7 linked regions of the Homo sapiens genome follow. The protein of the gene in region 7 interacts with the protein of the main gene of each other region in a biochemical or structural test. Each region holds a gene or a part of one and is shown on either strand. Other genes may lie near its edges. The genes, in order: KCNT1, APPL1, SDK2, TMEM178B, RAMP3, FAT1 and LDB3.

Region 1 (3,500 bases), on a different chromosome or scaffold from region 7:
TGGGTGGCACCTTCAGAAAGGCCTGGGAGGCTGGGGGCTGGTCAGGCCAGATGGGCATGGGGGCTGCCTGCCTTGGTGGGGCCTGGGAGGGGGCGGGGGTGCACCTGGTGTCCAAACTCACAGGCTACTCCCCCCAGGCCTCAGCTTCCCCACCACCAGTGCAGGAGGGAGTGAGTGTCAACAGCCTTCTCTGAGCCGTGCTGGGGCCGACACATCCGTGGGACCCGCTCCTGCCTCGGCTTTCCCAGGGCCCTGTGGGTGGGTGGGTGGGTGGGGCCTGGCAGGCTTCTCCATGTGAAGCTGCGATGTTCTGGTGCTCCGCAGAAGCTGCGTGGGCACGGAGGGGTTGCTTACCTGGGCTCTGAGGTCGTGGGGCTGCAAAGGAAACAGGCGCAGTCTGGGACCTGTGGGCGCACCCCTGCCCCCCACGCCGCCTCAGCCTGGGGTCTGCACGGAACATGCTTAGGGCTGGTGGGCACGGTGCCTGCTGCTGTGTGGACTGCAGCACAGGGGCTGCCCGTATTCTTCCTGAAGACTCCCCTGAGCCTCTCTGCCCCCGGTAGGGGTCATGGCTGCTCCAGCTGGAAGCGCTACACGTGGGCACACGGACCAGACGGAAGGAGCTGCCAGCAATAGCAAAGCTGATCTAGCCCAGGTCCCTGACACTGAAGGTGGGGATGCTGTGGGTCACACAGGACAGGGGCTGCCACAGTCCCAGCCCCCGGAAGGTGGGGATGCTGTGGGTCACACAGGACAGGGGCTGCCACAGTCCCAGCCCCCAGGCTGCCCCAGAACCTCCGAGGTGGAGAAGACGTGGCTCTCTGTCCGGTAGATGCCAATGGGGATCTCGGCGCTGGAGGAGCAGAGCTTCTGGAAGAGGCGGCCGTACGTGCGGATCCACAGGTCGCCCTCGGTGATTTTCATCTGCAGGGTGGGAACCCTGAGTTGGCTGGGGCAGGTGGCAGCACCCAGAGCCTCCTGGCCACCGTGAATCAGGGGCAGGTGCCCATCCACCCACTTGGACAGCCCAGCACGCCCCCAGCCCAGCGCAGCCAGGGGCACTTACGGCACAGAGGTACCCCGAGCCCGGCGTGGTGTCCAGGCCCAGCAGCAGCCGGGTGATGGTGATCATGTAGTCCTTCACGAAGGACTGGCCAGGGAGGGAGGGAGGGAGGGAGGGAGGGAGGGAGGGAGGGAGGGAGCCACAGTGAGGCACGCGGGCACGGGCGTGGGACACAGGTCCATACCCCACCGGCCACGGGCTCGCCACCCCTCATGCATACACACACACAGAACCACCAGGTCCCCAAGCACCACATGACCCACAGGCAGAGTTCTGGGAGGCCTTTTCTAAGAAAACTCCCTTGCCAGGCACCCATAGGTCAAAAAGGGCCCAGAAATCCCTGGGGCAAGGACAGGGCCCAGAGGTCTCCTTGGAATCCAGGGAAGGTCATTCAGAGGGAGTCCTATCATTCAGAACAGGGACCAGGCTGAAGAGCTGAGGGCATGACGGGGGTCCCACCCAGGCGCCACCCTCCTGCTGCCGCTTCCCCGCTGACCTGGTAGAGCAGTGTGTCCAACATGCTGATGCTGAAGACGCGGCCGGCGGCGAACGGCAGGCGGAACATGAAGGCCAGGTTGGAGCCATTCTCTCGCTCCCTCTGTGGGAAAGGAGGGGCCTCAGATGGGCTGGTGCCGAGGTCCCTCCAGTGGCACGGCAGCCACGGGGTCGAGGGCACTGTGTGTGCACCGTACATGTGTGCATGATACCTGTGTGCACATTTGTGCATGGTGTGTGTGTCCACGTGTACACAGTGTGTGTCTGCATGTGTGCATACACCGGCAGGCCTGAACCAGCTCTATCTTCCCAGACACACTCAGGGCCAGAGCCCGGGAGGAGTGATGTGGGGCTCTGATGAGAAGGTGGACTCCCGGCGGCTGCCATGGGCACTGCGCTTGGTCAAGCGCCCTGCTCTTGCCATCCCGAAATTCCAAATCCTCCTGATAATCCTCTCCTCCCCCGGTGTTTTGTAAGTGGTGCCGGAGGGCGTGTGGAGTCTGGGCTGAGGAGGAGCAAGCATCGGGCTCCCTGCTGTCCTTGGCCTCCCCGTCCCTGTGCTCCAGGCTTGCAATGGACCCACTGAGTTTCCTGGGGCTCCCGTAACAAATGACCGCAAACTTAGCAGCTAAAACGACACCTGTCTCCTCTCTCCCGTTTCTGGAGTCGGGAGTTTGAGGTGTCTCAGGCTGGATCCAGGCCTGGGCAGGGCCCCGCTCCCTCTGGAGGCCTGGGGGCCTCCTTCTCTTGCCTTTTCCAGCTCCTGGAGGCCACCTGCCTTGGCTTGTGGCTCCCTCTTCCCTCTTCTGAGCTGGCCGTGCAGCTTCTTCCCACCGGATGGGGACCTCTGGCCTCTCCCTAGAAGGACCCTGACGGCGTGAACCTGCCGGATGCTCCAGGAGGATCTCCCATCTCGAGGCCCGTGACTTAATCCCATCTGCAGAGGCCCTTCTGTCACGTGAGGCGGTACATCCACGGGCTCCGGACCCGGCCGTGGCCAACTCTCGGGTCATTCTTCAGCGGAGGGCCCCAACCCTGGAGCTCGGCCTCCAAGCAAGTGTGCACAGGCAGGCGTGTGCGCCCACGGAGGCCACACTTCCCCCCGGAACCAGAACTCGATTCACAGGTAAAAGACACGACAGCGACAGGACAAGCAGGCAGAAGCCCCTTTTCCTCCGGGTTCGCCCTTACTCATCAGTGGCCGGTGGGAAGGCTGGGGCGTGAGAAACAGTGGAATTAGTTTCGTGCGGCGTTTCCGCTCTTGGGGCAAGAACCAGGTGCGATGAGCTGCGATGGGCGTGTGAGTTTGCAATCGTGGTGATTTGCATCCAGAATTCCAGCCGTACTTCGCGGAGACGAACGTGAAATTCCAGAACAACTTGCAATTTTAATTTTCCTTTACTCAGAACAACGCTAAACAGGAAACAAGAACCACGACAGGGCCAGAGAGAGACGTGGAAGGAAAGAAAAAGCTGGACGTTTCAGGACCTTCCAGAGATTTCCTCCTGCTTTCTGGACAGGAGGGCTTCAGCAGGGGCTGAGCGGGTGCCATTCACAAGTGACAGTGAAGACAGGAGCACACAGGAGCGGATGAGCCCTTCCTGAGCACGAGACCCCCGGTCAGAGGGAGCAGGACAGGCACCGTGCAGCCCCAGGATGGGCAGAGCCAGCCTGAAGGAAGGCTCCTGGTGAGGAGGAGAGATCACACAGGCTGACCATGTGAAAGCAATGAAGTGGTGGAGGAGTCCTGGGTGCTGGAGACCAGGGGAGGTGGACGGCAGGGGAGGTGGGCCTCAGGGGAGAGACTCCTCTCACACACCGGGGCTCTGAGAGCCTTCTGGAGCCAGCCCTCAAGGGGAGATGCATGTCACCCCACCAGCAGCATCCTTAATAATAGTTTCATTTTTTTGCTTGGTTTTTTTTGAGACAGGGTCTCGCTCTG
Region 2 (3,500 bases), on a different chromosome or scaffold from region 7:
AATTGTAAAGGAAGAAGTCAAACTATCCTTGTTTGCAGATGATATGATGATCTTATATTTAGAAAAACCTAGACTCCACCAAAAAACTATTAGAACTGATGAATTCAGTAAAGTTTCAGGATACAAAATCAACATACAACAATTAGTAGCATTTCTATATGCCAACAGTGAACAATCTGAAAAAGAAATAAATAAAGTAATCTCACTTACAATAGCCACAGATAAAATTAAATACCCAGGAGTTAACCAAAGTGAAAGATCTCTATAATGAAAACTACAGGCTGGGCGCAGTGGCTCAGGCCTGTAATCCCAGCACTTTGGGAGGCCGAGACAGGTGGATCACTTGAGGCCAGGAGTTTGAGACCAGCCTGGCCAATATGGTGAAACCTCATCTCTACTAAAAATACAAAAATTAGCCAGGTGGTGGTGGCGCATACCTGTAATCCCAGGTACCTGGGAGGCTGAGGCATGAGAATTACTTGAACCTGGGAGGCAGACATTGCAGTGAGCCGAGATTATGCAACTGCACTCCAGCCTGGGCAATAGAATGAGACTCTGTCTCAAAAGAACAAACAAAAAAAACAAAAAACTATAAAACACTGATGAAAGAAATTGAAGAGGACACCAAAAATGGAAACATATTCCACGTTCATGGATTGGAAGAATCAATATTGTTAAAATGTCCATACTACCCAAAGCAATCTATAGATTCAATGCAATCCCTATCAAAAAACCAATGGCATTCTTCACAGAAATAGAAAAAACAATCTGAAAATGTATATGGAATCATAAAAGATTCAGAATAGCCAAAGTTATTCTGAGCAAAAATAACAAAATTAGAGAAATCACATTACCTGACTTCAAATTACAATGCTACAGAGCTATAGTAACCAAAACAGCATGGTACTGGCAAAAAAAAAAAAAAAAGACACATAGACCAGTGCAACAGAATAGAGAATCCAGAAACAAATCCACACAACTACAGCGAACTCATTTTTGACAAAGGCACCAAGAATATACATTGGGGAAAAGACAGTCCCTTCAATAAATGGTGCCGGGAAAACTGGATATCCATATGTAGAAGAATAAAACTAGACCCCTCTCTCTCACCATATACAAAAATATTTTTTAAAAAAATTTTTTTTTATTTTTTTTATTTTTTTTTAAATTTTTTTAAATATAATTAAAATGGATTAAAGCCTTAAATCTAAGACCTTGAACTATGAAACTACTACAAGAAAATATTGGGGAAACTCTCCAGGACATCAGTCTGGGCAAAAATTTCTTGAGTAATACCCCACAAGCACAGGCAACTAAAGCAAAAATGGACAAATGGGATCTCATCAAGTTAAAAAGTTTCTGCACTGCAAAGGAAACAATCAACAAAGTGAAGAAACAAGCCACAGAATGGGAGAAAATATTTGTAAACTACTCATCTGACAAGGGATTAATAACCAGAATATACAAAGAGCTCAAACAACTCTATAGGAAAAACCTTAATCTGATTTAAAACTGGGCAAAATATTTGAATAGACATTTTTCAAAAGAAGACATACAAATGGCAAACAGGCATATGAAAAGGTCCTCAACATCACTGATCATCAGAGAAATGCAAATCAAAACTACAATGTATCATCTCACCCCAGTTAAAATGGCTTATAGCAAAAAGGCAATAACAAATGCTGGGAAGCATGTGGAGAAAAGGGAACCCTTGTACACTGTTGGTGGGAATGTAAATTAGTATAACCACTATGGAGAAAAGTCTGGAGGTTCCTCAAAAAACTAAAAATAGAGCTACCATATGATCCAGCAATCCCACTGCTGGGTATATACCTAAAAAAAGGAAATCAGTATATTGAAGAGACATCTGCACTCCCATGTTTGCTGCAGCTCGGTTCACAATAGTTAAAACTTGGAAGCCACCTAAGTGTCCATCAACAGATGAATGGAAAAAAAAAAAAAACAACAGATGAATGGATAAAGAAAATGTACACACACACACAATGGAGTACTATTCAGCCAGAAAAAAAGAATGAGATTCTGTCATTTGAATGGATGATACATGGATAAAGAAAATGGATAAAGAAAATGTGGTACTTACATACAATGGAGTACTATTCAGCCATAAAAAAGAATGAGATTCTGTCATTTGCAATAAGATATATGGAACATGGAGGTCATTATGTTAAGCAAAATAAGCCAGGCACAGAAAGACAAATATTGCATGTTTTCACTTATCTGTGGGATCTAAAAATCAAAACAATTGAACTCATGGAGCCAGAGAACAGAAGGGTGGTTACCAGAGGCTGAGAAGGGTAGTGTGGGGATGGGGGGTGGGAGGATGGTTAATGATTAAAAAAAAAAAATAGAATGAATAAAACCTGGTATTTGATAGAACGGGGGACTACGGTCAATAATAATTGTACATTTAAAAATAACTAAAAGAGTATAATTGGATTGTTTCTAATACAAAGGATAAATGCTTAAGGGAAGGAATACTCCATTTTCCATGATGTGGTTATTACGCATTGCATAAGTGTAGCAAAATATTTCATGTACTGCATAAATATATACACCTGGCTGGGCGAGGTGGCTCACACCTGTAATCCCAGCACTTTGGGAGGCCGAGGCAGGCGGATCATCTGAGGTCGAGAGTTTGAGACCAGCCTGACCAACATGGAGAAACCCTGTCTCTACTAAAAATACAAAATTAGCTGGGCGTGGTGGCGCATGCCTATAGACCCAGCTACTCAGGAGGCTGAGGCAGGAGAATCGCTTAAACCCGAGGGGGCGGAGGTTGCAATGAGCCAAGATCGCGCCATTGCACTCCAGCCCAGGTGACACAGCAAGACTCCATCTGGAAAAAAAAAAAAAAATGCATACACACACACACACACACACACACACACACACACCCCTTGTACCCACAAAAAACGAAAAACAAAGATCATCCTACTTTCACCATTTTAGCTCTAATTAGTCTCTTGAGAAACTTTGTTAGTACGATATTCTCAATAATTGTTCTATTAAAGGTTCTTTTTCCAGCTGGGTGTGGCAGCTCATGCCTGTAATCCCAGCACTTTGGGAGGCCAAGGCAGGTGGATCACTTGAGGTCAGGAGTTCAAGACCAGCCTGGCCAACATGGTGAAATCCTGTCTCTACTAAAAAAATTAGCCGGGCATGGTGGCACACAACTGTAGTCCCAGCTACTTGGGAGCTGAGGCAGGAAAATCACTTTAATCCAGGAGGTGGAGGTTACGGTGAGCCAAGATTGTGCCACTGCACTCCAGCCTGGGCAACAGAGCAAGAGTCTGTCTCAAAAAAAAAAAAAAAAAAAAAAAAAGGTTATTTTCCATAGAAAAAAAAAACACTAGAAGAAAATGAAGGGAAAACTCTCCTGCACATTGGTCTCGGCAAAGATTTTATGCCTAAGACCTCAAAAGTATAGGCAATAAAAATAAACAAATGGGACTTAAACTAAAAAGTGTCTGCATAGCCAA
Region 3 (3,500 bases), on a different chromosome or scaffold from region 7:
CCAGAAAATCTGAGCAGGGACTCCTGTCTCAATGGCAACACTACCCCATTCCATGGATGCATCTGCGGGAGCTGCTGGAGGGCGGGGCCCCCACTCTTGAGGTACCTGGCTGCTCAGTGCGCTGAGGGCTACATGGCATGGGGTGTGCTGGATGTACAGAGACGAGAGGCATTTCACAAGTCAATCAGCTCTGGAGATGGGGCGAGAGGCCTGGCAGGAAGCTGGAGAGCTGGGAGGGGCCAGATGACCGTGGGCTGTATGCCTCCAGTAAGCATTCATTCATTCATTCAGTCTTCATATTATGCTGACTCCTCCTACGTGCCAGGCACTGCCCTAGTGGCTAGAAATATACCAGTGAATGAAACAAAGCCCCTGCCCTCCAGAGACACCAATAATAAACAAACAAGTCAATATATGTCAGCTGGAGCTGAGTGCAATGGAGAAAATGATGGAGAGCGAGGGAGTGGGTGCTGGAAGATGCCACGTTATAGGGTGCTCCGAGATGGATAAGACATATTAGGAGGAAGTCCTGGAGGAAACAAGGGTGAACTTTGTAGACATCTGGGTGGTGTGGGCACCACTGATGGAAAGGCAGGAACTTCAAGTGCCAGGTTGGAGGCCTGGTAAATTCCAGGAACAACAGGCAGTCAGTGTGGGGACAGGAGTGAATGCAGGGGGAGTGAGGAGATGAGGTGGGAGGGGAGGTTCATGTCTGGGGAGTAGAGGGGCAGTGATCAGGACACCCTCCTGGACTGTAATGGACACATTATAAGAACTTAACATTTACAAAGGGCATTTTCAAAGTGATCTGGACAATCTCATTTGATTATCCAAGACAACTCTAAAAGGTAGATAACAGTCTTTTTTTTTTTTTTTTTTAATGAGACAGGGTCTCGCTCTGTTGTGTAGGCTGGAGTACAGTGGCACGATCTCAGCTCACTGCCACCTCCGCCTCCCAGGTTCAAGAGATTCTCCTGCCTCAGTCTCCCAAGTAGTTTGGACTATAGGCTCCCACTACCACGCCTGGCTAATTTTTTCATTTTTAATAGAGATGGGGTTTCCCCACGTTGGCCAGGCTGGTCTCGAACTCCTGACCTCAAGTGATCTGCCGGCCTCGGCCTCCCAAAGTGCTGGGATTACAGGCGTGAGCCACTGTGCCTGGCTGGTAGACACAACTATTTTTAACTTTACTCATTTTACAGATGAGAAAACTGGCTCAGCTCAGCATCGCCCAGTGATGGAGGCAGGATTCAAAGGGGCAGAAGCCACGCTGGGAGCCATTCACCACGTCTGCAGGAGAAGGGTCTCCCCAGGGCTCCCTGGGCTCAGCAAGAGGCTTTTTGGTCCAGGCACCAGGCCCAGGGAGTCTGAGGGGACAAGCCCTGCAGTCCCCTCTCTCCCTTCCCCCGGGGATGCTGAGCATCCCTGCTCAACGCTGCTCACTGGCTCTGCCTCCTGCCCAGCACATGGACAGCAGGGGTGGGACACCTAGGGGAGGGGGCACCCGGGGTGTCTCGGCAACCAGCTTGTTTTCCTTTCCATTACAGGCAGTGGGCTGCAGCCGCCAGTTGCTGCTGGCCCATTTGTTGCTATTGGCATCCCAAGGCCCCAAATTATGATGACTAATTCCCACCGCTTTAGGCAGCTCCAGGGCTGTCTGTGGCAACATGCTCCAGGGGGAGCGGGGTAGAAACCCCGCAGGGCGCACACTAACACCCGACATCAATTCCAACTCAGCCTCCTGCCTCCCAGAGGGGCTGGGAGTCCGTAGGGACAGGGAGAGGGTTCCAGCCAATCAGAGGACCCCTTCAACCACAGCCAGATCCTAGGAAAACCAGCTATAAGGGGACAATTTCTTCATCAGCATAAAACATAGCTAACAGCCAGCTGGTGTTGAGCAGTAGTGAGTCCTCCATCATCAAGGGTATGCAAGCAGAGACCAGATGGCCTTGTGGGCAGACGACGGTCCTAGATGACTTTTCGTGTGTCTTTCAAGTCAAATGCAATGATTCCCATTAGTCCTTAGGACAGAAGATAAGCCCATTCTCCCCTCCTTGTTAGCTTACAGCCCGACTGCGTCCTGTGGTACAAAGTCAAATGTGGACCAATATGCAGGTTAACACTTCATTTTAAAGTCAGCCATTCAGGCGCTGTTTAAACAGAGGATCGCTGTAAAGAATTTGGCCTCCTTCCCAGCCTCCTTTCCCTTGTAGAACAAGGTTCCTGGCCCCTATGCCGGCCTTCCAGTAGAGGACACGAGGAAGAGGCAGTCGATAAATATTTGCCGAACAAATGCATGAAGCGGGGGTGGGGTGTGTGTGTGGGGGGGTCGAGGGTGGGATTTCCGAGGCAGGTGTCAGGCTGCCAGCGGGATGTAGCCTCTGGGTGGGGGTCCTGACTCTGTTCCTCCCAGGCAGGGGCCATTTTCTGCAGCCAGTGGAAGCACCAAGCTGTATCCCTCATCTAACCACTGCCAGAATGTTCCGGACTCCCCCGCGGAAGCCAAGGGGTACAAAGGGTGAGGGAAAGAGGGGCATGGGAGAGCAGGGACACCCCCATTCCACTCTCGAGTGGGGCTTTTGACAGCTGAGCCCCAGGCAAGCACGACACTCGGCCTCCTGGTAATTAGCGAAAGGCCCTGATCAATAAGTTATTTTTTGCTGTCAGTAATTAATAATTACAGCTTAGCCACACCATGTAATTAAACTTTCATCCCGCTCCCTTGTGTACTGTTGGCTTTTATTGTGATTAGCTCCCAGCACTAAACTTTCTCCCTTTGGAGCCTTTCAGGAGCCTCTAGAGCTGGGGGTTCCAGTCCTCTTTCAGGGTTGTCCCCACTGCCTTGTTCTCTCGGCTCAGATTCCCTTCCTTCTGTTCTCCCCCCAGGCATGATTCTCTTGAAAGAAACTTCTGGAGCAGCTGGCTCGGCTGCTCCTGCCCTTCTCCCAACCTCTCAGGCTGGCCAGGATGACCTCCAGCAGTAATCAAGCTTCCAAGCACATGGGAAATCTCTCGAGACTCTAGTTAAAAGACTTCCAGGCTCACCCAGACCTTTCCAATCAGTGTCTGGGAGCGGAGCCCAAGAATCTGCATTGCTACAACTCCCTGGGAGCTAAGTGCTTGAGGGCCACTCTTTGAGACACAGTGATGTGGCCATGGAAGGAATTTAAAGAAACCTCCTGGGTAAGGAAAAAGAATTCAAGGTCTTATTGGTGGGTGGCAGGGTACCATTCTTCATGGACTTCTAGCTTAATGTTAAAACCGTCATAACAAGAATAATAATTGCCATGTATTAAGTACCTTCTATGTGCCAGGCACTGGCTGGGGCCCTGCCCCTGGAATATCTTGAATTCTCCTAGCAATTCTACAAGGCAAGAGCTATTATTGCCAGTGTACAGATGAGGAAACTGAGGCTCTTAGTGGCTAAGAGCCTTGCAGAAGGCCTCTCTTCAGCGAAGCGGCAAAGCCAGATCATGAGAGCCCGTTCTTTCTGCTGCCAA
Region 4 (3,500 bases), on a different chromosome or scaffold from region 7:
GAGCCGAGATCGTGCTACTGCACCCCAGCCTGGGTGATAGAGCGAGACTCCATCTGAAGAAAAATAGTCATAGAGTAAAAATAATATCTAATATATGAATCGTGTAATATAGCACAGGGTAATGGGCACCATGAAGGTCTGCCCTTACGAAGCGCAAAGGGGAAGAATGACAAGTAAGGCAAAAATGAAATGCAGTCATGTGCCCTGTAACATTTTGGTTAAAGACAGACTGCAGTGGTCTCATAAGGTTATCATGGAGCTGAAAAATTCTTATGGCCTAGTGACATCATAGATGTCACAGTGCAGCAACCCATTACTCCTGTGTTTGGGTTGAGGCTGGTGTAAACAAAGCTACTGCACTGCCGGCGGTATAGAAGTCTAGCACAAACAATTATGTACAGTATGTAATACTTGATAATAAAATGACTGTTACTGGTTTATATATTTACTATGCTATACTTCTAATCATTGTTTTAGAGTGTACTCCTTCTGCTTATAAAAAAAAGTTAACTGTAAAACAGCCCCAGGTGGGTCCTTCAGGAGGTATTCCAGAAGAAGGCATTGTTATCAGGAGGTGACAGCTCCATGTGCACCATTGCCCCTGAAGACTTTCCAGTGGGCTAAAATGTGGAGGTGGAAGACAGCGAGATTGATGATCCCAACCCTCTGCAGGCTTAGGCTAATGTGTGTGTGTGTGTGTCTTAGTTTTTAACAAAAACGTTTCAAAAGTTGAAAAATAAAAAATTTTATAAACAGAAAAAAGCTTATAGGATAAGGATATAAAGAAAGAGCCTGGGTGCAGTGGCTCACACCTGTAATCCCAGCACTTTGGAGGTTGAGGTGGGTGGATCACCTGAGGTCAGGAGTTCGAAACCAGCCTGGCCAACATGGTGAAACCCCGTCTCTACTAAAAATACAAAAAATTAACCAGGCATGGTGGCACATGCCTGTAATCCCAGCTACTTGGGAGGCTGAGGCAGGAGAATTGCTTGAACTTGGGAGGTGGAGGTTGTAGTGAGCTGAGATTGCACCATTGCGCTCCAGCCTGGGTAACAATAGTGAAACTCCATCTCAAAAAAAAGAAAAAAAAAAAGAAAGAAAATATTTCATACAGTTGTAAAGTTAAAAGAATTAAAAAGTATATAAAGTAAAAAATCTACAGTGAGCTGAGGTTATTGTTGAAGAAAGAAAAATATTTTGTATAGTTTGGTGTAGCCTAAGTGTACAGTATTTATAAGGTCTACAGTAGTGTACAGTAATGTCCTAGGACCTCACTTTCACTCGCCACTCACCTCTCACTCACTGACTCACCCAAAGCAACTCCCAGTTTTCTAAGCTGCATTCATGGTAAGAGTCTCCACAGGTGTATCATTTTTTGTCTTCTCTACTGCATTTCGACTGCATCTTTCCTATGTTTAGAAACACAAATACTTACCATTGTGTTATAATTGCCTACAGTATTCAGTACAGTAACATGCTGTTCAGGTTTATAGCCTTGGAGCAATAGGCTATACCACATAACCTTGGTGTGTACTAGGCTACACCATCTAGGTTGTGGAAGTACACTCTGATGTCTGCATGACGACAAAATCGCCTAACGATGCATTTCTCAGAACATATCCCTGTTGTTCAGTGACATGTGACTGTAGTTCCATACAAGGAGGCTTTGGGTGTTGCAGGGAAAAGAGGTGGTAAAACTAATATAGACTGGAGTTCAGGAGGTTTCATTAGCTGAGGGACCTCCACAGGCTCTTTCTTTCTGCATTCTTTATTGAATTCCTAGAGGGCAGGAACTGTTTAATGTCTAAAACACACTTGGGGTCCTGTACTTAGTAGGTTCTGAAAAACTGTTTGCTGATTAAAAAACTTAAGACATACTCACCTTCAAAGAAACACATGCAAACATCCATAGTCTTGTATACATGATGTGCACCTCCTTGCGTATACGCCATGTGTATGCCCATATGTAATAAATAAACACTCATAGTCCCATCTCTCCTCCTCAATCATCCTAAAACTCAACTAACCAGTGAGAGTCAGTGATTCAAGAAGAAAACCTGTGACTTACTGGGCAAATGAATGGATGGAGTAAAGAGATGTGTTTTGAGCACCTGCTGTGTGCAGAGCTCTTTGCTACGTGTGGAGGGAGAACAAAAAGGCATGGTTGGTTCCTGTCCTAAGGGAGCTTACACTCCAGCTCATGGTTTCCCAAGTTCATTGTCATGTGCAGTGGTATCAGGTGCTTCCTCAGGAGGTCTTACCTGCATCAATTGGATAAGGAATCAACTAGTCAGGGAATGCAGGAGTGAGCTCTTTTTATTGAGTCAACAAAGTCTAGAGCCTTTTTTTCTGTTGAAGAGGTCAGTTTATTTATTCTTTTACTGTAGGGTCAATTAGAGGATCAATACTGTGTATTCCACTTTGGATTGTCAGTTGAAAACATTTCCCCCTCTTTGCTATTAGTAAGTAATCCTAGGCCTTCAGGCAGAATGCTAAACACACTTGGGTTAGTTTGACCCATCATACACAGACACGCACACCTCCCCCCACACACATCTAGATGTTAGATGTTACAATCACAAGCGTCTATTTAGATGCAGATATGTTTGTAACTTACTACTCCCAAACAATCCACAGAGAGAGGAGGAAGGGTGTGACTTGGTGAATGAATAGATGGAAAAATCATCCTAATGTCTTGATTGCTGTTTTCGAGAGAATTCATATATTCTTTTATATGACTTATTTTCTCATATGTAAAATAATGTGTTTAGATTCTATAAACTCCAAGCCCTTTCATACTTTTACATTTGATGAGAAAGTTAGATTTAGGTGTCAAAGAGTAGATAATAGGTACATGGTTGAGGGAGGGTGAAAAGAGGGGCAAGGCAAAAGTTGATGGGGGGTGGGAAGAGAAAGAGGAAGGGAGGGAGAGAGAGAGAGAGACAGACAGACAGACAGACAGACAGATGTGAGAGACAAAGCAATTTCTAAAGAGATCATCCTGGGTTCTAGTTTGCAATAGGAATAGCTAATTTCTTACCACTCTAAAAACATGTAATAAAAACGAACTTTTCCTCTTTCAAATGGCTTGAAATGTGATTTGCAGTTCAGGGTTTAAAATGAAAAACCTAAGAGAAAGGTGATGACAGATGCACAACACTGTCAATGTACTTAATGCCACTGGACTTTAAAAGTGGTTAAAATGGTAAATTACCCCAAGGAAAAAAAAATACATTTAAACACTCAATAGAGAAAGGAACTGGATTCTGTTTAGTGTGTGGAATACTTCGTAGCCAAGGCTCTTCATTCATTCAGCAGAATTTTTTTTTTTTTTTGAGACAGAGTCTCGCTCTTGTTGCCCAGGCTATGTAGCTGGGATTACAGGCACATGCCGCCATGCCTGGCTAATTTTCGTATTTTTAGTAGAGATGGGGCTTTGCCATTTTGGCCAGGCTGGTCTCGAACTCCTGACCTCAGGTGATATGCCTGCCTCGGCCTCC
Region 5 (3,500 bases), on a different chromosome or scaffold from region 7:
AATGCAGCACCTGAGACATGCCCAGGCATTAGAGACACCTCAACAGCTAGGTCCATGGACAAACCCTCATCTTCCCTGACCTGCTTCTCCCACAGGGCCTCAGATTCAGTAGCCTGCTGTCCACCCCAACCCCCCGCCAGCTGATCCAGGAGCTGGGGAGCCGTCTAACAACACCCTGCAACAGCCTTCACCTTCAGAAGTTCCCAGCATCTATGTGTGTGATGAGAATCACATGCGGTAACCTCTGTGCCTCCAAAGTCATTCCACTGAACTGCTACCCAGGAATGCCACCCCCCAACAACCATCCCCAGGGCTGAGATGAGCCAGACAGACCCTGGAGAAGACCCTCTGTGGACAGCGAGTCTACAGGGCAAGAGGAGTGATGTCTAGCCCCAGAACCGTCCCAAGAGGAGGTGAGGCAGGGCTGAAAGCCCCTGCTGTTCCCAAACCCCACTCCCAGCCAAAGCTAGGCCACATGGAGAAGCCCACGGAGCAGAGGTAATCCCAGAAGACAGCATGGACAGTGGCTTCAGGCTCAGGTTGCAGAGCCAACATGGCAGGGCCTCTCCAACTCCAGCTCAGCCACTCACCATCTTTGTGGTATGGGCCATGTCATTTATCCTCCCTGGACCTCAGTTTCCTCATCTGTAAGTGGGTTTAATAACACTTATCCTATCAGGTGGTTGAGAGAACCAAATGAGTTGAGGTCCATGTGCCCCAGCAAGTGCCTGGCACAGAGGAGGTCATGGGGTGAGCCCACCCCAGCTGTTAGGTTTGGGGCAGAGCTGAGCACAGCACCCATCTCTGTGGATCCACAAAATCTGCATTTTTGTCACATATCTAGAGAGGTCCACATTCAGTGCTTCTCTAGAAAACCGGGAACTACTTATGATTTATTCATCCCCTGGATAATCTGGGGCCTCTCCACTCCTCCTTCAGTCAGGCTCCCCAGAGCACTCTCCCTAAAAAAGATGCACCACAACCCAGGATGGGAAGGAGAGGAGCCCAGCAGGCTGGAAGCCGGGCAAACCCCCCAGTCAGACTCCCTCTCCCCCCACCCACCTCTGGGGTGTTTGCCCACCTTCCTTTATGTTTCACCACCTGAGTGTGTTCCCAGGCAATATAGTGTTGCATTTGGAAATCCCATAGCAATGCTCCTTAACTGGGTACAGAAGGAGCCCATTGCTGCTATTGGAGGGAGGTTCCCAGGAGAGGACACGCTCTGGTTGCCCCGAGGGGCAATGAGACTCCTCCCCAGGGAAGGCCACAGGCAGGCCATGGGCGAGTTTGGGGAATAGGGTCTTCCCAGCCATGACTCGACTCCTGATGGGGTCGTCATGTGGACCAGTCCTATTGAGGGGAGCAAGCCACCTCTCCTCTAAGCTCACCAAGGCCCACCCTGCTTCAGTGGGGACCAAAGCAGAATGAACATTCAGGGGAAAGAAAGGAGTGTCCTTCATTCTTGACTGAGCTGGGCTGCAGGGCATGGGCAGGCAGTCACCATGTCAGGTAAGCATCAAGTGCCCTCCACCTGGGCCAGGCTGCCTCCACCCAGGGTGTACTGCCACGCTGGGGCACCGCCCTCCCTGGGGCTTCCCTCTCCTGCCTTGGCTCCGCTCCCCAAATCTCATAGCTTCTTTTGTCGTGGTTTGCTCCACACCTTGGCGCACAGCCGCCAGAGCTTGAGAAAGGTATGTGGGAATCAGATGCTGGAGGTGCCACACGTCTGACAGTATTTTCGTTTCTCCCTAATTAGTGGACAAATTGGCGGGAAATAGCACACTAGCTGAGAAATCACAGTCCGAAATTCTCAGGTCCTTGCATCCCACAGTCCTCGGTTTCCAGGGCTGCGGTGGGGGAGCCTGAAGGCCTCTGATCCCCTCATCTCCAACCTAGAGCTCATTTTTTTCCTCCTTCTGGATAGGTGTAGAAGTTTTCCTTTGTTTCCACAGCTCTGATATTCCAGGGTCCATGTGGGACATTTTCCTCCCTCGTGCTAGTACCGGGCAAGCCCTCACCGGCTGCAAGCTCATGCCCTCAGCCCCTGGCAAGGGCCCTTTATCCTTCCATTCTCCTGTTCTCTTTCTAGAATTCCTACTATCTTGGTGTTACGCCTGGACTGACCACTGACCTCCTGATCATCTTCTCTGTCTCTCTCTCCTATTCCTGGGAGATTTCCTCAACATCTCCCTTCCAACCTTTCTATTCCATTTCACTTCTATTGCATCTTCCATTTCTAAACCTCTTTCTTTGTTCTCATTCATCACATGAGAGATAGTTGTTGCCCTCTGAAGATATCAGTCGTGACGTTTGCAGTTTTCTTCTTGGTGCATGGCCCCCGGGTTTGCTTGGTTCCATCTCTCTGGTCTCTGTCCTTCAGGGTCAGAGCCTTAGGTCAGATTTCCAGGGACCCTGCTTGGAAGTGACTCGTGACTGGGAGTGGGGACTGAGAGCTGATGAGACACTGGGACCCTGCAGAAGAGCTTGTCCCCAGAGCTTCCAGGGGTTGGGGGGGTCACTGCTTCTAGGTCCTTCCTCTTGGCTGGTCTCACTCCTCAGAAAGGACAGCTCCAATCCTACCCTAGACCACCCTCCTGGACCCAGTGGCAAAAGATAATGCGTATCAGCCGCTCTCTCCAGCCTCCCTCTCTGGGACACTGTGCCACGTTCTCAATTACATGGGAAGGCCCAGAAACCCTGGTGTCACCAGCTCCAAGAATACACCTCCAGTGTCCAGCTGGGGTGGAGGAGGGCTCTGGACACCTCACTGCTTCTCAGCTACTCTTGCCACTCTCTTGGGAGCTGGTGCTGCCGGCCGGGTCGTGGGAGGGCTCCGCAATGTCAACCTGGCTGTTCCCAGCTCCCCTTTTCCAGCATCAGGTCTGACTTCACCAAGGGCACTCAGTCAGTGGCTCTTGCCCACTCACTCACTGGCTCCTAAATGCCCATCGGGTTGCCTCCACTCCTGTCCTCCCAATCCACGGCTGGACATCTCTATTTAGTCTCTTTACCAAGGCTTTAGCGGGTTACAGAGAGGAGCAAGACCAGAAGCTACGAAGCTATGACCTCCTCTTCCCTGACTCCACCCCCACCAGTGGGTCCATTCCAGGCCTGTGTCCAGGCTCACTGAGGACCAGGAGGAGCCTGCAAAACCCCTTCCTGAATCCCAGCACCCCTTCCCAGCAGACTCAGAATTCCATTCCACTTGGTTCAGCAAGCAGTTCCCCCACAGAGTGGGGCTGCAGATGTGACAGCCTCAAGAAGCCCCCATCTGCTGGGCCACTAGAATGGCCAGGGCCGGGGAGGCTTCCTGGGGCAGGGCCATGGTCAGTGTCTCTACGGAAGACAGGGGCTGGGGTGCTAACATGCAAAAGCATGAGGCCAGCACATTTAGGGTCTGGCAGCAGCCACCAGGGGGTGGCACAAGACTGCAAAGCCAGAGGTGGAGTGGGGTGGGGCAGAGGACTGTGAGGCCATGAGCAATTTCCAAGGAGGTAAGG
Region 6 (3,500 bases), on a different chromosome or scaffold from region 7:
CCCATCCAACATCTCGCCATCTCTCAATGTCTAAAAAACATGGTCAACTGTATGTCTCATTACTTTAGCAAACTGGAATTGGAACTCAACACGGAACTCCTCTAAAACCAGCCCCCGGCTCAGACTCCTCTTTGCCACGGCCTTGGTCGCTCCCCCTACTCATGTAGAAAGTCGGGCTCGATGGCATGCTGGCTGGCTGTCACACCAGATGGTCTTCCTCGGTGGTGGCTTTGGTCCTTTCACTCCTTCCCCACCTCTGCCTTTCCAGGGCCCCCTTGCATCCACTCCTCCCTGTCTAAATAATGGGCACGATGCTTCCAAACTAAGCTTAAGAACTCGTCTCATGTCATCTCTACCTTACCGATATAAAAGGCTCCAAAGTCCCTATTTTCTCTAGGATCGAGTTCAAATCCCTTGGAACGACCGCCACTGCCCACTGTAATCCAGTTCACCCTTTTCCAAGACTCTCAGTGCAGACTCCCCACTTCTGGCAAACTCAGTGGCTACTCCCACAATCCCTCCTCACACTCCATGGCCCCTCCCCACCCACTCCTGACGACCCACTTACTGCCCCCCGAAGCTGAGCCAGCCCTTTCTCTGGGCAGCCCTTCTCACCCTCTGGCCCCAGGGACCACCCCTGCTCGAGCCACATGCCCTCATCTAACCTTGGAGGGAGCAGCCCTTCCTACGTCTACTTTTAGTTCCCACTGAATGGTGAGCCGCGCAGATGCAGGAAGCACGCTGTCCACCTCTGAGCTTCTCCAGCGTGCAGAAGAGCAGATGCCCCCAAAACAGTGTCTCACGGCACGTCGGCACTTTGTTTCCCGTCAGATCCTTCCCCCAAAACAGCTGTATCCCCATATTAAGAGAATCCCCTCATGAAAAGGTTACAGAGCATTTTCAGTGTTGGATGCAACTGGAGTCCTGTCCGTAATTTAGTTTTCTAGAATGAGGCTTTTGATTTATTGAGCATTCCCGCAAATAGTTCTGAAGCTTTTCCAAGTCTTACCCCATTTAACACCTCTGCTTAATCAGTAAGTGATCATAAAACACATGTGAATTACACCACAGCGCCAAATGATGGTCCCATTGAAAGAATTAAGAAATTGAAATTCATAACACACAAATGTAAGGGAAGAGCTGCTTACCTTTTCACAAACTGGACTGTTGTCATTTGCATCCAGAACTTTCACTTCAACTATCGCTTTTGATGAGAAGGTGCCATCAGTTGCCGTGATAGTAAGAAGGTAATTGTCCCTTTTTTCCCTGTCTAGAGGTTTCTTCACATATACCTTCCATTCATTCTGTATAGTTTCAACGGCAAACTGTCCTAAAGGATCCCCTCCTATTAAATCAATGGAGGAAGATAATAATCAAATTTGTTGAAAGGATAAAAATAAGTAACAGAAAAAATAAACTGTACAAAAGATGTATAATGTTATAGTTTAAAAGAATTGAGTATTAAAAGAATTAATTTGGCATATATTAGCCTTCCAATTTACAAAAACAAGGGCAGCATTAAAATGCATAAACATAGCATTAAGACTACTAATCATTTAGCCTGCATTAAAACTATAGATGTTTTTAATTATATTTATTATACACTAAGTATAAGGTTCAAAAGAATGAGTCACAAAAATCAAAAACAGTCTAATGAAACAACTGGTAGCTTTGCTCAGGTAACAAGCTTGAAATGAGGCTCAACAGATGTTATTTCTACGTATTATTTTAGATATTTTTAACTAAAATCATCCCTTAAATCCCCAATTTCCATACAATACAGATCTTATACTTTATGCTTCTAAAAATCATTTTAAATTAATTAAACCGTTTGGTATGAATTTTTTTTACCTGTTATGAAATATGTAACTTGTCTGTTGATCTCTTCAGAATCAGCATCCGTGGTACTTAAGATGGCAATCACCCCACCTTGGGGGTCATCCTCACTCACAGTCCCTTTATAGATCTCGGCCGTGAATCGTGGTGGACTATCGTTGACATCGGTGACGGTAACATCCACAATGGCTGTGGAGGATAGCTGGATCTTTTCACCATGATCTGATGCAACCACTTTAATCTGGTAATTGTCTCTCTTTTCATGGTCAAGTTCCTTTAAAGTTGTAATCCAGCCTGTTTCCATGTTAATGGCAAAGGATTCAATGACTTCCACACTTTGTGACTGATCCAGGCTATACATAACTTGGCCGTTGGTTCCTGAGTCAGCATCAGATGCCCTGATCTGAATTACTCTACTTCCCCCTGGCAGGTTTTCAACAATGAATGCCTCATATGGACTAGATTCAAAGACCGGGCTGTTGTCATTTGCATCTTTCACTTGGATACTAACATCTACAGAAGCCACCATCTCATGGTCATCTTGAGTGCACCTGGCCAGTATGGAAAACTGATACCACTTAGTTGTCTCATGATCAAGACTCTTCTCCAACTTCAGTCTCCCGCTCTGTCTGTCAATCACAAAGGACTCATCCCTATTGCTTTCTGGAGTATTCCCTTTGACCAGGCTGTAAAGAACAGTCCCACTATGTTCTGCTCGGATGAGATCTATCTCTGTTCCAATAGGCACGTCCTCTGACACTGTAAAGGTATAGAAAGGTTCTGAAAATTTTGGAAGCTGCATTTCCGGTGGAAGGATTTTAACATAGACAAGAACAACAGATTCTTTTGATGGAGACCCATTATCCACAGCTCTAACAAAGAAAGTGAAGAATTCATTTTCCAAGCCAATGAGGCTCTCCTTTGTAGTGATTACGCCGGACAGTTTGTTAATTTCCAAATTCTCTTTTACACTTTCAGAGTCTGCTTCAATGGCATAGGTGATGTCGGCATTGGAGCCCTCATCGGCATCACTTGCAAGAACTTTAACGACTGAAGTCCCTTTAGCAGCACTGGACCCGATATTCACTTCGTATTTGGTTGCTCGAAATTGTGGTGCATTGTCATTGTCATCTGTAAGGATGACATTCACGGTGCAGAAAGCAACTTTTCCTCCAGCATCCTTAGCCATTAAACGGACTGAGATCACTTTCTCCGCCGGGGTTTCTCGATCAAGTTTTTCCAAAGTAAATATCTGTCCTCTCTCATTTATGTAAAATCTGTCTTTGGCAAAGTCATTTACAATATGGTAAGTAACGTGACCATAAATACCAGAATCCCCATCCGTAGTTTTCACCTCCATCACCAGGGTATGTAGGGGAGCGTTTTCAGCTAGTTCCACTTCATATTCGTTCTGAAGGAAAGCAGGACTGTGCAAATTGCCTCCAATTACAGTTACATGAACCTGGGTGGAACTTCTAAAAACTCCATCAGACACTGACAGGTTAAGACTGTAAAATGGCTTCAGGGCGTGCCGGTGCAGGTTTGAGAGGGTGATAATCCCTGTTGCACTGTCAATGACAAAATGTTTATGATCATTGCCAGACAGAATGGAATACTGCAACTTGTCTATGTCTGAACTGTCTGCATCATAGGCTTTTACACAG
Region 7 (3,500 bases):
GAGCTGGGAAGGGCATTCACTAGTACAAGAACCCAAGACGTTTCTTTTCTTTCTTTCTTTTTTTTTTCAGATGGAGTCTTACTGTGTTGCCCAGGCTGGAGTGCAACGGCAGTATCTCAGCTCACTGCAACCTCTGCCTCCCGGGTTCAAGCGATTCTTCAACCTCAGCCTCCCGAGTAGCTGGGATTACAGACGCCCGCCATCATGCTCGGCTAATTTTCGTATTTTTGTAGAGATGGGGTTTCACCATTTTGGCCAGGCTGGTCTTGAACTCCTGACCTCAGGTGATTCGCCTGCCTTGGCCTCTCAAAGTGCTGGGATTACAGGCGTGAGCCACCGCGCCCAGCCAAAACGTTTATTTTCTAATTTACAGTCAGGGGAAAGAAGTTTTATTTTGTTTTGCTTTTTCCCTTGAGGAACTGAATGTTTTCTCCTTTCTGATTTTAAAGTAAACTAACTTACTGTGTTTCTCTTTTTGCCCTCAAATTTGCTACCCAGTTAGTCCCTGCAGCTCTGTTATTCTTCATAATCAGCATGCCTGCTTTTCCCGCCTCTGATTTTCTGGTTCTACTGTCTTAGCCTTCATGTCTGTGTTACCTTTTCTGGAACCTGCTTCAAATCCTTTCTGAAGGGGGAAGCCTCTGAATAAATGAGTGACTGACTTCCACCTATCTAATGAAGTGCTTTGTCTCTTGAATTTACAATAATTTACTTAGCATTTTAAGATAACATATAGCATTTTGGGGGTACAGAGAAACTCTGAATTCACTCCGTGAGATTACAGGAATCTGCAGGAACATCAAAGTCTGATAAATATCACAGGGGCAGAGGAAGGGGTCTCGCATATTTGATGCTCTACACGCCTTCTCTGGTTTAATCCTCACCACAGCTCTGTAAGGCAGGTGTTTACAGACGAGGAAAGTAAGGCTCAGAGAAGGTTAGTAACTTGCTCAGGTTTACAAAGCAGCCCAAAGTGGAACCAGGAATAGAATGAAGGACAAAGTCCACAGCCAAGGCCTTTTCAGACTAGACCTTGTGGTCTCCAAATCAAAATAACCTGAAAGGTTTCCCAGTGGTCATAAGATGCCAACTTGTGATCTACATTTTTTTTTTTTTTTGAGATACAGGATCTTACTCTGTTGCCTAGGCTGAATACAGTGGTGCTATCACAGGTTACTGCAGCCTCGAACTCCTGGACTCAAGCGACCCTCCCACTTCAGCCTCCTGCGTAGCTGAGACTACAGGCACGCGCCACCACACCTGGCTAATGTTTATATTTTTTGTAGAGACTGGGTCTTGCTATGTTGCTGGTGTCAAACTCCTGGGCTCAAGCAATTCTTCTGTCTCGGCCTCCCAAAGTGCTGGGATTAAGGTGTGAGCCACCTCACCTAACCAGATCCACATATTTGATGCATAAAATAAGCTATAGACTCTGCACCTCACTCTCCCCAAAGCTGCAACCATATGGGCAGGGGAGATAGTTAACTTCCTTTGTGTGATATTAGCATGATTCTGCCATTAAAAGCAAAAACAAAGGTTTCTTCCAGAAATAAAGGCCTCTGGGTGGTCGGATGTGAATGGATTAGGCAGGAGTTAGTTCCCTGTGCCTGCCCCTTTCTCCCAGGCTGTGGGGCCTCCCCACATGCCATCGAAGTGTTCCTACCTTTCTCGCAGTAGGGCTCCCCGTCTTCCATGTGGAAGAGGCTGTTCCCAAAAGGCTTCTTGCAGGCCGCACAGACGAAGCAGGTGGTGTGCCATGTCTGTCTCAAGGCATGCATTACTTCCTGGGGGAAAGAGCCTAAGCTCAGGACAGAAAGGAGAGAGGGAGCGGGCTTGACTACCCCACCAGGCTCCAGCCACTGCCCGAGCATCCTACCAGGGAACAGGGCAGGAGATCTCAGGATGCAGGCCTTGGTCACTCTGAAGAAAGACCCAGGGGTGTCAGAGAAGGGGTTGTCACTCTCCAGCTGGGTGCCAGGTTCTGTGCTTTCTTACATAAACTGTGAGGCTTAATCCTCCCATTAAACCTGGGAGGAGGTACTGCTTATTACTGTCATTTACCAAAGGGGCATTGAGGGTTAAGGCCACATTCTGGTGAGTGGTAAGGTCAGGCTGTGAAGCAACCACTTGCTTTGCAGAAGTTCCACCACCACTTCAAGCTGTGTGGAACAGGCACACAATCATCTCTTGCATCAAGTTCATTTATCCCCAAGTTTATTGGTGGCAAACCAATTCCCTTTTAGGATAAAAATGGAGTTGCTTTCTCTGTTACCAGCAACTTCTTGGCTTCCTAATGGGATCCCACGATCTTGGGGAAGGGCTGGGGAAGAGACATGGGTCAGAGGAAATGGAGGCCTCCCACTTACCCCCATAATTTTGGTGTTGCACTTGGCACACAGCGGGGCAAAGAATTGCTCATAACATCGCTCACAGTAAACGTTGTTCTGCTCTTCCACAAAGCACACATCTGCCAGGGAAGTCTTGCAGTAGGCACAGGTGAACTCTTCAGGGTGCCAAGAACGGCCCATGGCTACCAGAAATGGGCCCCTGGGGAAGCACAGAATGGCACCCAGTAAGGCAGCTCCCAGAACTTGGAATTAGATATTTGAAGAACCCCAACACTGTTTATACTTTTACCCAATAACTCTGACTTTTGTGACTGTTCTGATGAAGTAATGTGAAATTCAGAGAAAGCTCCATGCAGAAAGGTGTTCATTGTTGCATCACTTACAATAAAGAAAATCAGGAAGCAACTCAAACATCTACCAATAGGGGACTGGGTAAACATATTATAGAATTCAGTTGACCACTGATAATGATAGTAAGAAATGCAATAATGATGATGCTGATGGCTAACATTTATTAAGTGATTACTCTGTGTCAGGCTCTATTCAAGAAGACTTTTGCATTTATTAACTTGCTTAATTCTCACAACAATCCTACGCACTAGGTACTATTATAATACCCATTTTTAGATAGGGGAATTGAGGCACACAGAGTTTGAACAACTTGTTTAAGGCCATAGGGCTAGTAAGTGGTAGACCAGGATACAAACTTGTATTGTCTAGTTCCAGGTTAGCAGTCAGAACAGTGGGACTATGAAGACATTTTTTTATATTCTAATTTTTACTTTTCTGTGTTTTCCAATTCTTCACTAATGAGTATGTATTACTTTAGTTTTAAATAAAAGTGTATTTTTCACGTATATAAGCTCACACCACACATGCACACAAACATACTGTATTCAAACAACAGCACCCATGGTCCATGGCTTCTAAGTATGAAATCACTTGTTTTCATTTTAGTCTGGCAGATGCCCACCAACCCCCTGAGCAGCCCAGGCCTGTCTGTGGAAAGACCCAGAAACAACCCTAAAGGAAAACTGGGTCAAAACCAACACTGTCTAACAAAATGCCCTGTAAACCTACTGACAAGCCTGGTGATTCCCAGACCTCAACCTTAGCCCAAGGGGGAGTTCCTGGCACCAGGCATCCTGCTGG

What was found.
Region 1: the proteins of LDB3 (region 7) and KCNT1 interact in a test that uses a peptide from one of them, tested with the Homo sapiens proteins (one large-scale study listed by IntAct).
Region 2: the proteins of LDB3 (region 7) and APPL1 interact in a test that uses a peptide from one of them, tested with the Homo sapiens proteins (one large-scale study listed by IntAct).
Region 3: the proteins of LDB3 (region 7) and SDK2 interact in a test that uses a peptide from one of them, tested with the Homo sapiens proteins (one large-scale study listed by IntAct).
Region 4: the proteins of LDB3 (region 7) and TMEM178B interact in a test that uses a peptide from one of them, tested with the Homo sapiens proteins (one large-scale study listed by IntAct).
Region 5: the proteins of LDB3 (region 7) and RAMP3 interact in a test that uses a peptide from one of them, tested with the Homo sapiens proteins (one large-scale study listed by IntAct).
Region 6: the proteins of LDB3 (region 7) and FAT1 interact in a test that uses a peptide from one of them, tested with the Homo sapiens proteins (one large-scale study listed by IntAct).

Annotation. Positions count from the first base shown.
Region 1 is NC_000009.12:135,782,185-135,785,684, reverse strand, and holds part of KCNT1 (potassium channel subfamily T member 1), read right to left. Parts: intron 1,662-3,500; coding exon 1,560-1,661; intron 1,151-1,559; coding exon 1,067-1,150; intron 925-1,066; coding exon 796-924; intron 376-795; coding exon 355-375; intron 1-354. UniProt on the Homo sapiens protein: Sodium-activated K(+) channel. Acts as an important mediator of neuronal membrane excitability. Contributes to the delayed outward currents. Regulates neuronal bursting in sensory neurons. Contributes to synaptic development and plasticity.
Region 2 is NC_000003.12:57,262,229-57,265,728, reverse strand, and holds part of APPL1 (DCC-interacting protein 13-alpha), read right to left. Parts: intron 1-3,500. UniProt on the Homo sapiens protein: Multifunctional adapter protein that binds to various membrane receptors, nuclear factors and signaling proteins to regulate many processes, such as cell proliferation, immune response, endosomal trafficking and cell metabolism.
Region 3 is NC_000017.11:73,637,946-73,641,445, forward strand, and holds part of SDK2 (protein sidekick-2 precursor), read right to left. Parts: intron 1-3,500.
Region 4 is NC_000007.14:141,080,564-141,084,063, forward strand, and holds part of TMEM178B (transmembrane protein 178B precursor), read left to right. Parts: intron 1-3,500.
Region 5 is NC_000007.14:45,178,291-45,181,790, reverse strand, and holds part of RAMP3 (receptor activity-modifying protein 3 precursor), read right to left. Parts: intron 1-3,500. UniProt on the Homo sapiens protein: Accessory protein that interacts with and modulates the function of G-protein coupled receptors including calcitonin gene-related peptide type 1 receptor (CALCRL), calcitonin receptor (CALCR) and G-protein coupled estrogen receptor 1 (GPER1).
Region 6 is NC_000004.12:186,615,857-186,619,356, forward strand, and holds part of FAT1 (protocadherin Fat 1 isoform 1 precursor), read right to left. Parts: coding exon 1,852-3,500; intron 1,346-1,851; coding exon 1,149-1,345; intron 1-1,148.
Region 7 is NC_000010.11:86,717,011-86,720,510, reverse strand, and holds part of LDB3 (LIM domain-binding protein 3), read right to left. Parts: intron 2,548-3,500; coding exon 2,367-2,547; intron 1,785-2,366; coding exon 1,664-1,784; intron 1-1,663. UniProt on the Homo sapiens protein: May function as an adapter in striated muscle to couple protein kinase C-mediated signaling via its LIM domains to the cytoskeleton.